Linked DNA regions of Homo sapiens: region 2 is linked to region 1. Evidence: fine-mapped expression QTL. A gene starts in region 1. The other region holds a variant in brackets. All regions are shown on one strand. Distances are from middle to middle. Region 1 holds the start of GZMM (granzyme M). Region 2 overlaps BSG (basigin (Ok blood group)).

Region 1 (5,362 bases):
CCGCCACTCACGTCACTCGGGGCTCGGTGGACGGGCCCAGGGTGGGAGCGGCCGGCCCACCTGTCCCCTCGGGAGGGGAGCTGAGCCCGACTTCTACCGGGGTCCCCCAGCTTCCGGACTGGCCGCACCCCGGAGGAGCCACGGGGGCGCTGCTGGGAACGTGGGCGGGGGGCCGTTTCCTGACACTACCAGCCTGGGAGGCCCAGGTGTAGCGGTCCGAGGGGCCCGGTCCTGCCTGTCAGCTCCAGGTCCTGGAGCCACGTCCAGCACAGAGTGGACGGATTCACCGTGGCCGACTCTTTTCCCTGCTTTGGTTTGTTTGAAATCTAAATAAAACTACTTTATGAGAGGCCAGAGAAGCTGTGCTTGGGAGGGAGAGGCAGCCTCCACGTCCATGAGTGACTGCACACGGCCAGTCCCACTGGGACCCTGGCTACGCCAGGTGTGGATCTGGGAGGCCTGTCCTGGGAGGCACGGGGAGCAGCCGGGTCCCGCGGCCTGTACGTTCCCATGACTTGGGTCAGACAGGCCTGGGCAGCATCCCCCAGCCTGCGGGACAGGGGCGGCCAGAAAGCCCCCAGAGTTCCTCCTCCCTGTGACCAGGTGCATCTAGTGGGACGGGAGCTGCCTCTGCAGGCATCCAGCAAAGCTTCGTCGCGGGTCCACAGCCGCCTGGGCGTTGATCTCAGCGTCTCAGGGCTCCCAGGACCACAGATGCCCCCGATCAGCACTCCGGCGGCTCCAGCTCCGTCCAGGCACACCCTCGGGGTGGGGAGCCGTGGCCCTGGGCACACAGGGCAGGCACCTCACGTCCTGGTGTCAGGAAGTCCCCAGCATCGTTTTATTACATGTCATGGAGGAAAGCTCGGAGCTCCCATGCCCTCCCGGGGCACCGCCTTCCAGGAACCTGCCTGCGTTCCGCTTCTGGGCACCCGGAAAGTCGCTCAGTGGCTGATTCAGGGTCGAGGAGCTGTGAGGATGAGGTTTCCCACCAAGTTGGGACAGAAAATGGGGCCCTGGGGTCTCAGCAAACCATGGCCCTCGGGACCAAACCTGGCGTCCGCCCCTATTGTGAGTGAAGTGTTACTGGCACAGCCACACCCAGGTCTCAGGATCATCCATAGCTGCTTGGTTTGGTTTGGTTTTGTTTTTGAGACACAGTCTTGTGTTGCCCAGGCTGGAGTGCAGTGGTGCGATCTCGCCTCCTGGGTTCAAGTGATTCTCCTGCCTCAGCCTCCTGAGTAGCTGGGACTACAGGCTCCCACCACCATGCCCAGCTGATTTTTGTATTTTTAGTAGAGATGGGGTTTCACCATGTTGGCCAGGATGGTCTCGAACTCCCAACCTCAGGTGATCGCCCGCCTCGGCCTCCCAAAGTGCTGGGATTACAGGCGTGAGCCGCCGCGCCCGGCCTAAATTTATTTATTTTTGAGACAGGGTCTTGCTCTGTCACCCAGGCTGAAGAGCAGTGGTGCAATTACGGCTCACTGCAGCCCCAACCTGGGCTCAAGCGATCCTCCTGCCCCAGTCTCTCAAAGTGCTGGGATTACAGGTGTGAGCCACCGCCTTCGGCCAGTGTCTTTATTCATGAAGACCAAAAACTAGAACAGCGCAAATATCCGTCCGCTGGTGAATGCATAAACACAGCGTGGTCCAGCCACACAATGGGATGTGACACAGCCACAAAAAGGAGCGAGGCTCTGACACAGGCCACAGCCTGGATGCACCTTGAGGACGTCATGCTGGGAGAGACGCCAACGCAACAGGTCCTGTGTGATTCCACTCCTGGGAGGTCCCTAGAGACCAATTCAGAGGCAGGAAGTAGTGGCCGGGCGCGGTGGCTCATGCCTGTAATCCCAGCACTGGGAGGCCGAGGTGGGTGGATCACCTGAGGTCGGGAGTTTGAGACCAGCCTGGTCAACATGGTGAAACCTCGTCTCTACTAAGAATACGAAAATTAGCCGGGCGTGGTGGTGGGCACCTGTAGTCCCACTACTCGGGAGGCTGAGGCCGGAGTATGGCGTGAACCCGGGAGGCGGAGCTTGCAGTGAGCCGAGATCGCACCACCGCACTCCAGCCTGGGCGACAGAGCGAGACTCCATCTCTGAAAAAAAAAAAAAAAAAAAAGTGTTACTTTGTCAGGTGTGATGATGGTAGTGTGGCTTCATCTCGAGTCCTCTTTGAGAAACACTTTCTAAAATGCTCAAGGATGGAGGGTGGAGGGTGTGCAGCGGTGGGCGGGGCTGTGACCGTCACCTCACCTCCCCCACAGGAAGCGCGTGTGGGGAGGCTCGGGGCCGGGGCCAGCACCCACACTGGGTCTCCACAGCGGCATGGAGGCCTGCGTGTCTTCACTGCTGGTGCTGGCCCTGGGGGCCCTGTCAGTAGGTGAGTGGGAGCCGGGATGCAGGGGGGACACTGAGGCCCAGCGCTCTCGGTGGGTCCCTGGATGGGAGGGGTGGGCGCGGGCGCCGACATCCTGGGTGTAAGAGCGGAGATTCATCCTTGTTTGGAGGGGGACTGAGGCCTGGGGCATCCCGAGCTCCTCACGCTTCACCCCGAGTGGACATCCCGGGACCGTGGGAGAGTGTGGTGTCCACCGGCTCACCTCGCCCATCCTCCCGGCAGCAGCCAGAAGGCAGGGGTCACGCTCACACCCGAGGTGCAGAGTAGGAGACTGAGACTTGGCGAAGGAGATGCTGACCTAGGACTGCCCAGCTGGGAGGGCAGAGCTGGGACTCGATCCCCGCTGGCTGCCTGCCACCACCAAGGGCTTGGCTGGGACTAGGTGCCCAGCAGTGAGGGAGAAGGGAGGTGGGTGGCGGCTCCCCTGCATTCCAGCTGGACTGAGTGACAGGGGCTCTTGATGAGTTGGGGACCCAAGAAGATGGACAGAGGTAGGAATCCAGCCGTCAGTCATCATCATCCTTCCTCCCATTTTTATTTCCTTCCACCCATGGGTCCATCATCCCTCCCTCCCTCCCTCCCTCCCTCCCTCATCTCCCCTTCCTTCCCTCTACCCGTCCGTCCACCCATCATTCCTCCTTCCATTCTTCCACCCACCCATCCATCATCCATCCCTCTACCCATGGGTCCATCATCCATCCCTCCCTCCCTCCTTTCGTTCCCCCTTCCTTCCCTCCGCCAGTCCATCCACCCATCATTCCTCCTTCCTCCCATTCTTCCACCCACCCGTCCATCCATCATCCATCCCTCCTTTCAACCTCCCTCCTTCCCTCCACCCGTCATCCTTCCCTCCCTCCTTCCATGTATCCACCCATCCATCCATCATGCCTCTCTCTTCCTTTCCCCCCTCCTTCCCTCCTCCCTCCCATCCATCCATCATCCATTCCTCCTTCCATCCCTCCTTCCTTTCTCCCGTGCTTCTGTGTATCCATCCGTATTTGCAGGGCTCGTGCTGTTCTAGGCCTGCCCTCCTGTCTGACTGGAAGAGACAGGCCAGGCATGAGACTGTGCAGAGCGGAGGAAACACGGAGGGCAAGAGGGCGGGTGGGGGGCCGTTGCAGGAGACGAGCATAAACCAAGGGAGGAAGCCGGTGGGGGAAAGGTACGCAGGCAGCTAAGTGAGACAGACAAAGGCCCAGGGTGCAGGCAGCTTGCAGGCACAGCTAGACTTGCACTCTTGTCACCCAGGCTGGAGTGCGATGGTGCCATCTCGGCTCACTGCAGCCTCCGCCTCCTGGTTTCAAGCGATTCTCCTGCCTCAGCCTCCCGAGTAGCTGGGATTACAGGCGCCTGCCACCATGCCGGGCTAATTTTGTATTTTTAGTAGAGACAGGGTTTCCCCGTGTTGGTCAGGCTGGTCTCAAACTCCCAACCTCAGGTGATCCGCCTGCCTCGGCCTCCCAAAGCGCTGGGATTACAGGCGTGAGCCACCGCGCCCGGCCTATTTTTTTTTTTTAAGATGGAGTTCTGCTATTCTTGCCCAGGCTGGAGTGCAATGGCACGATCTCGGCTCACCACAACCTCTGCCTCCCGGGTTCAAGCGATTCTCCTGTCTCAGCCTCCCAAGTAGCTGAGATTACAGATGCCCGCCACCTCGCCCGGCTAATTTTTTGTATTTTTAGTAGAGACGGGGTTTCACCGTGTTAGCCAGGATGGTCTCGATCTCCTGACCTCGTGATCCACCTGCCTCGGCCTCCCAAAGTGCTGGGATTACAGGCGTGAGCCACCGCACCCGGCCTTAATTTCTGTATTTTTAGTACAGACGGGGTTTTACCACATTGGCCAGGCTGATCTCCAACTCCTGACCTCAGGCTGTCTGCCCACCTTGACCTCCCAAAGTGCTGGGATTATAGGCGTGAGCCACTGCACCGGCCCGCAAGCGGGGACTTGATTTTCAAAGCATGATGGGGATTCAGAGAAGATTTTGAGCTGATTTACGTTACATTATGAAATCAATCCTTTTATATTTATGATTGATTTAAAATAATTTTTGTACAGCTTTATTAGGAAATTATGCACTATACAATTTACTTATTTAAAGACTACATTTCTTGCTGGGCACAGTGGCTCACGCCTGTCATCCCAGCACTTTGGGAGGCCAAGGAGGGTGGATCACCTGAGGTTAGGTGTTTGAGGCCAGCCTGGCCAACACGGCGAAACCCTGTCGCTACTAAAAATACAAAAAAATTAGCCGGACGTGGTGATGCGCTTCTGTAATCCCAGCTACTCGGGAGGCTGAGGCAGGAGAATCGCTTGAACCCAGGAGGCAGAGGTTGCAGTGAGCTGAGATCACGGCACTGCATTCCAGGCTGGGTAACAGAGTGAGACTCCATCTCAAAAAAAAAAAAAAAATGGCCAGGTGCAGTGGCTCATACCTGTAATCCCAGCACTTTGGGAGGCTGAGATGGGTGGATCACAAGGTCAGGAGTTCGAGACCAGCCTGGCTAACATGGTGAAACCCCATCTGTACTAAAAATACAAAAATTATCCAGGCGTGGTGGCAGGTGCCTGTAGTCCCAGCTACTCGGGAGACTGAGTCAGGAGAATGGCATGAACCCAGGAGGCGGAGCTTGCAGTGAGCCGAGATCGTGCCATTGCACTCCAGCCTGGGTGACAGAGCGAGACTCTGTCTCAAAAAAAAAGAAAAAAAAAGTTTTTTTTAAGAGACTGGGTCTTGCTGTGTCGCCCAGGCTGGTCTCGAACTCCTGGCCTCAAGTGATCCTCCCTCCTCAGCCTCCCGAAGTGCTGGGATCACAGGGGTGAGCCACCCACATCCGGCCTGATGTGCGTTTTGAAGGACTCCTGTGGCTGTGGGGCCCAGTGGGGCCTGGGGAGGTCCTGGAGAGGGGATTGGGAGGTGGCCTGGGGGGAACATGATGGGGGTGATGAGAGGGGG
Region 2 (5,355 bases), 38 kb after region 1:
AAAGGGCGCCACACTGCCAGGTCCCGGGCACGTGTGCGGGCCTCCCAGGCTCTGTGCTCCTGGCACAAGAGGGCACCACACTGAGGCATGCCCTGCTCGGACCCCAGACGCTGTCATGGCCGGAGCTTTGTCATAACTGGGGCTGGGACGGCCCTGGGAGCACAGAGCCTTTTGTTTTCAGGCTGACTGGGAAGACGGTCACAGGGTGTGGGGTGCAGAGCAGGGACCAGAGGTGTGGGGTTCATCAGTCGGGGAGAAGGGGGTCTGTTGGTTCTCTCACCTGTGGGGTCTTGCCAGCCTGGCTCTGTCCTTGGGGCCGCACGGGGACCCCAGGAGTTCTTTTGAGGTTCAGACTTGACTGGGACAGTTTTGCTTTTTCACTGTGCCGTGGTTGGGCCCCTGGAGAACCCTGGGTCCTTGGAGGCGTCCTGCAGAGCTGGTACGCGGCTCACCTGCCTGCTGTGGTTGCAGGGTGGACTCCGACGACCAGTGGGGAGAGTACTCCTGCGTCTTCCTCCCCGAGCCCATGGGCACGGCCAACATCCAGCTCCACGGTGAGTCCTGCAGCCAGGGGTACCGGGCACCACCGACTGTCGGGAGAAGTTGTTGGCCTGAGGCACCCGGCACATCCCAGAGCCCTGGCCCCCTGCTCCCTGGAGGGGAACAGCCCTCCTGCGGGAGGCCGGGGATGGGGGCGGGCCTGCGGTTCCAGGCTCCTCTCTCTCACCCTCCTGTCAGGGCCTCCCAGAGTGAAGGCTGTGAAGTCGTCAGAACACATCAACGAGGGGGAGACGGCCATGCTGGTCTGCAAGTCAGAGTCCGTGCCACCTGTCACTGACTGGGCCTGGTACAAGATCACTGACTCTGAGGACAAGGTGAGAAGCCAAGGAGGCTGGGGGTCCTGGACCCAGCCCTCAGGACTGGGTGAGAGGCCTAGACTGGGGGTCCCGGACCCAGCCCTCAGGACTGGGTGAGGGGCCTAGACTGGGGGTCCCGGACCCAGCCCTCAGGACTGGGTGAGGGGCCTAGACTGGGGGTCCCGGACCCAGCCCTCCGGACTGGGTGAGGGGCCTAGACTGGGGGTCCCGGACCCAGCCCTCCGGACTGGGTGAGGGGCCTAGACTGGGGGTCCCGGACCCAGCCCTCTGGACTGCAGCCCTCCAGACTGGGTGAGGGGCCTAGACTGGGGGTCCCGGACCCAGCCCTCAGGACTGGGTGAGGGGCCTAGACTGGGGGTCCCGGACCCAGCCCTCCGGACTGGGTGAGGGGCCTAGACTGGGGGTCCCGGACTCAGCCCTCCGGACTGGGTGAGGGGCCTAGACTGGGGGTCCCGGACTCAGCCCTCAGGACTGGGTGAGGGGCCTAGACTGGGGGTCCTGGACTCAGCCCTTGCCTTTGGTCCCCTAGGCCCTCATGAACGGCTCCGAGAGCAGGTTCTTCGTGAGTTCCTCGCAGGGCCGGTCAGAGCTACACATTGAGAACCTGAACATGGAGGCCGACCCCGGCCAGTACCGGTGCAACGGCACCAGCTCCAAGGGCTCCGACCAGGCCATCATCACGCTCCGCGTGCGCAGCCACCTGGCCGCCCTCTGGCCCTTCCTGGGCATCGTGGCTGAGGTGCTGGTGCTGGTCACCATCATCTTCATCTACGAGAAGCGCCGGAAGCCCGAGGACGTCCTGGATGGTGAGCCGTCTGCCCTCCTGCCCACATGCCCTGCTCTCGGGGTGGCCCAGGGCCACTCCTGGTCCGTCCCTGCCAGCCCCACCGCTGACCCAGAGCTTGGAACTGAGGAGCCCCAGGCAGGGAGTTGATGGGACCCCGAAAGAAAGTGTGGGATGGAGGGTCTAGCCCCGGGCAGCTGCGGCTCAGTGGGCAGCGGGACCCCGGGAGGAGGAGGCGGCACCTCCGCCCCACAGCCTCACCCGGCCCTTCCCTCCCGCTCACTTGGCTGCAAGCCAGTGTCCTCCGTGGTGAGCCGGCCCTTGCTGCTCTGCATGATCAGGCTCGGGAACCTGAGGTCAGCCATGCTGTGCTCCGGCAGCCCCTGCCTGCCTCCTCGCGGAGCCCTTCTGCCCCTTGGGCTGCGTGTGCCGGGGCGAGGCCTGTGTGGGGCCTGTGATGGCAGCTCCTGGAAAACGCTGTGGGGCAGGGGTGAGGCCCACGAGGCCATGGGGACAGCTCACCATGGGGAGCACACCTGCAGGTGGGGAGGGCTGCCTTTCCCCACAGCACTCAGAAGATGCACGTGGCCGGGGCTGATGAGCTGCCCCGAGCCACCCCTGGGGGTCACTGAGGGCAGGGCTGGCAGCACAGATGCCCCTGCTCGGGGCCTGAGTGGGGCCAGTGCTGACAGGCTGTCCTCTCGTCCTCTTTTTCATGGCGGCGGTCCTTCTTCAGATGACGACGCCGGCTCTGCACCCCTGTAAGTTCCAGCTGTGGGGGTCGGGGGTCCCAAGGAGCGGCCTGCTGCCCCAGGCCTTTAAAACACAAAGGCAGAGCCCCTGGGCTTCAGTATTCGGGGGTCCTGGGGGCCGGGGTGGGCAGGGGTGACTTGGAGAGAGTGACTTGCGGGGGACACCCTCTCACCCGGCCCCTCGTGCCCCAGGAAGAGCAGCGGGCAGCACCAGAATGACAAAGGCAAGAACGTCCGCCAGAGGAACTCTTCCTGAGGCAGGTGCGGTGGGCGGGAGCTCCTCCTGAGCCAGGTGTGGTGGGTGGGTGGGCGGGAACTCCTGAGCCAGGTGTGGTGGGCGGGATCTGCTAGCCAGGTGTGGGCTCCTGGGTCCCGCCTGTGGGTCGCTGGGAGGTGGGTCCAGTCTGAGCGCCCCTCCCTGTCCACAGGTGGCCCGAGGACGCTCCCTGCTCC[A/G]CGTCTGCGCCGCCGCCGGAGTCCACTCCCAGTGCTTGCAAGATTCCAAGTTCTCACCTCTTAAAGAAAACCCACCCCGTAGATTCCCATCATACACTTCCTTCTTTTTTAAAAAAGTTGGGTTTTCTCCATTCAGGATTCTGTTCCTTAGGTTTTTTTCCTTCTGAAGTGTTTCACGAGAGCCCGGGAGCTGCTGCCCTGCGGCCCCGTCTGTGGCTTTCAGCCTCTGGGTCTGAGTCATGGCCGGGTGGGCGGCACAGCCTTCTCCACTGGCCGGAGTCAGTGCCAGGTCCTTGCCCTTTGTGGAAAGTCACAGGTCACACGAGGGGCCCCGTGTCCTGCCTGTCTGAAGCCAATGCTGTCTGGTTGCGCCATTTTTGTGCTTTTATGTTTAATTTTATGAGGGCCACGGGTCTGTGTTCGACTCAGCCTCAGGGACGACTCTGACCTCTTGGCCACAGAGGACTCACTTGCCCACACCGAGGGCGACCCCGTCACAGCCTCAAGTCACTCCCAAGCCCCCTCCTTGTCTGTGCATCCGGGGGCAGCTCTGGAGGGGGTTTGCTGGGGAACTGGCGCCATCGCCGGGACTCCAGAACCGCAGAAGCCTCCCCAGCTCACCCCTGGAGGACGGCCGGCTCTCTATAGCACCAGGGCTCACGTGGGAACCCCCCTCCCACCCACCGCCACAATAAAGATCGCCCCCACCTCCACCCTCACCCTCTCCTGGCTCCTGTCTGTGCCTGACGGGGTTGGGTTTTCCGAGAGCAGGTGCACCCTGGGCTCTGGTGGTCACAGCAGGGGTGCGTCCAGTACTGGGATTTCACATGCGAGGACGGGTCTGCTGAGACCGCAGTGGGTGTTGGGTGGCTCGGGGCATGGGCTGGACAGGGCCTGAGGCTGTCAGCCGGACTGGGAACTTGGAAGGTGGCTGGGGCCGACCCCGTGCCTCAGAGCCACACAGAAGAGAGTGGGCACTGACCTGAGCCTTCTCTGAGCCTGTTACTCCTCTCGGCATGTTTTGGGCCTGACAAAGGCTGAGGCTTTCTGCTGCCTGCCCTGCAGCTGCCTGCACCCACCCACCTGGGCGGGCTGCTTGGGCAAGGTTCAGGGGTGGTCCTGGCTGCTCCTGGAGAGTGGGTGTGTGAAGCTGGTGCCCAGAGGCTGAGGGATGCCCAGCCCCTGCCCGCCCAGCACACGGAACAGATGTGGTTGCAGGGCTGGAGAGCTTGGGGGACCAGGAGCTTAGAGCGTGGAGGTTGCAAGTTGCAGGACCAGTAACTGGGTCTGGAGGGAGGTTTGCAGCGGCTGTGTCAGCCCTGCAGGCCGAGTGTGGCACTGGGCCTTCTGCTGGTCTGAGCGGGGGTCTCAGGGTGGAGGTCAGCAAAAGAGGCTTAGTGGGGGCTTAGGGAGCCTGGGTGGGTTCCCAGAGAAGCTAGGAATCAGATGGGAAGATGGGAAGGCAGTGTGTTTCCGTGTTGGGCAAATCCAGCGTTTTCATGCCACGGAAGCCAAGAAAGGGCTCACGGCCTCCGGCCTCACAGGGCTACGCAAAGGGGGAGTTGAATAAACACGGTGACGGGCCCCGGGCGGCAGCTGCTCCCGGCACTGATCCTGCTGGGCCAGCGGTGGACTTGCAGGGCCCACATCCGGAGCTGCCCACTGGTCCTCGTGCTGCACAGCCTTGGAGGATCTGAGGCTGGCTCAGGGTCCCTGGCAGCAACTGCCCTGCTAGGTGGGGGCTGCTGGGTTCCACAGCTGGGCCCTCCCTGCCGGCTGCCACCAGGCGGCGCTGCACGCCCACGCTGAGTGGGGCAGGCCCTGGAGCCCCTCTGCCCGGGCAGCCTGACGGCCCCTCCTCCTCGGCTGAGACCGCAGAGTCCCAGGCATCACCCACTGAAAGTGTGCTCAGTGACCTGTGAATAGGGATGCCACGTCTGCGTGCAGACATTGATTAGGCGCCTGTGGTATACCTGGAGCTGGAGGGTGTGCGTGGACAACAGGCAGAAAGGTCCAGTGGGATGGAGGCTGCCAACAGGACGATGGGGAAGGGGCGCGTTGGGGACATCGCCGGGCACGCGGCCCAGGTGGGCCCCTGGCTCAGGTCTCCCCCCACCTCCCTGCCTGGGCTCTGTCCATCTTTCTGCCGCACCCTCAGCCCCAGGTGTGGGCCCACCGTGCTTGTGGACGCCTCATGCTCTGTACCGGGTGGGAGGTGTGGGAGTTACAGGTCAGGGCAGCCTTGGGAGACGGGCAGGTTTCCTGGGGTGCTTACCGGCAGATGGGGCGCCTGGGTCCGTGCAGGGTCGTCCGCCCGAGAAAGCAGCCCCTCACCCCTGGGCACTAACTTCATCTTTTTTCTTTGCACACAGAAACGTAAACCTGATTCACAAAAGTATAACCACTCAGCATGTAGCTTTGTACACCTGCCCTCAGCATTTAGTGTCCTCGTTCATCCAACAAGCATCTAATAAGCACTGGGGTACGC

The links. PIP is the estimated chance that this variant, and not a neighbour inherited with it, causes the effect. A credible set is the group of variants that fine-mapping cannot tell apart.
Region 2: its variant is the best candidate, but not a certain one, in a credible set for the expression of GZMM in whole blood (INTERVAL, PIP 0.68).

Annotation. Positions count from the first base shown.
Region 1 is chr19:541,739-547,100 of GRCh38, forward strand. GZMM (granzyme M) reads left to right here and starts at 2,315. Exons shown (of 5, transcript NM_005317.4): 1 at 2,315-2,388. The coding sequence starts at 2,334. CDC34 (cell division cycle 34, ubiquitin conjugating enzyme) reads left to right here. Exons shown (of 5, transcript NM_004359.2): 5 at 1-349. RefSeq lists an enhancer at 1,683-2,328.
Region 2 is chr19:579,908-585,262 of GRCh38, forward strand. BSG (basigin (Ok blood group)) reads left to right here. Exons shown (of 9, transcript NM_001728.4): 4 at 472-554; 5 at 739-875; 6 at 1,408-1,684; 7 at 2,399-2,423; 8 at 2,607-2,675; 9 at 2,843-3,586. The coding sequence ends at 2,670. Among named protein-coding and RNA genes, the nearest start is that of HCN2, 7.3 kb to the right of the region's middle. RefSeq lists enhancers at 3,470-4,032, 4,033-4,594 and a silencer at 4,567-4,836. The variant A/G (reference allele first, on the strand shown) is at 2,868.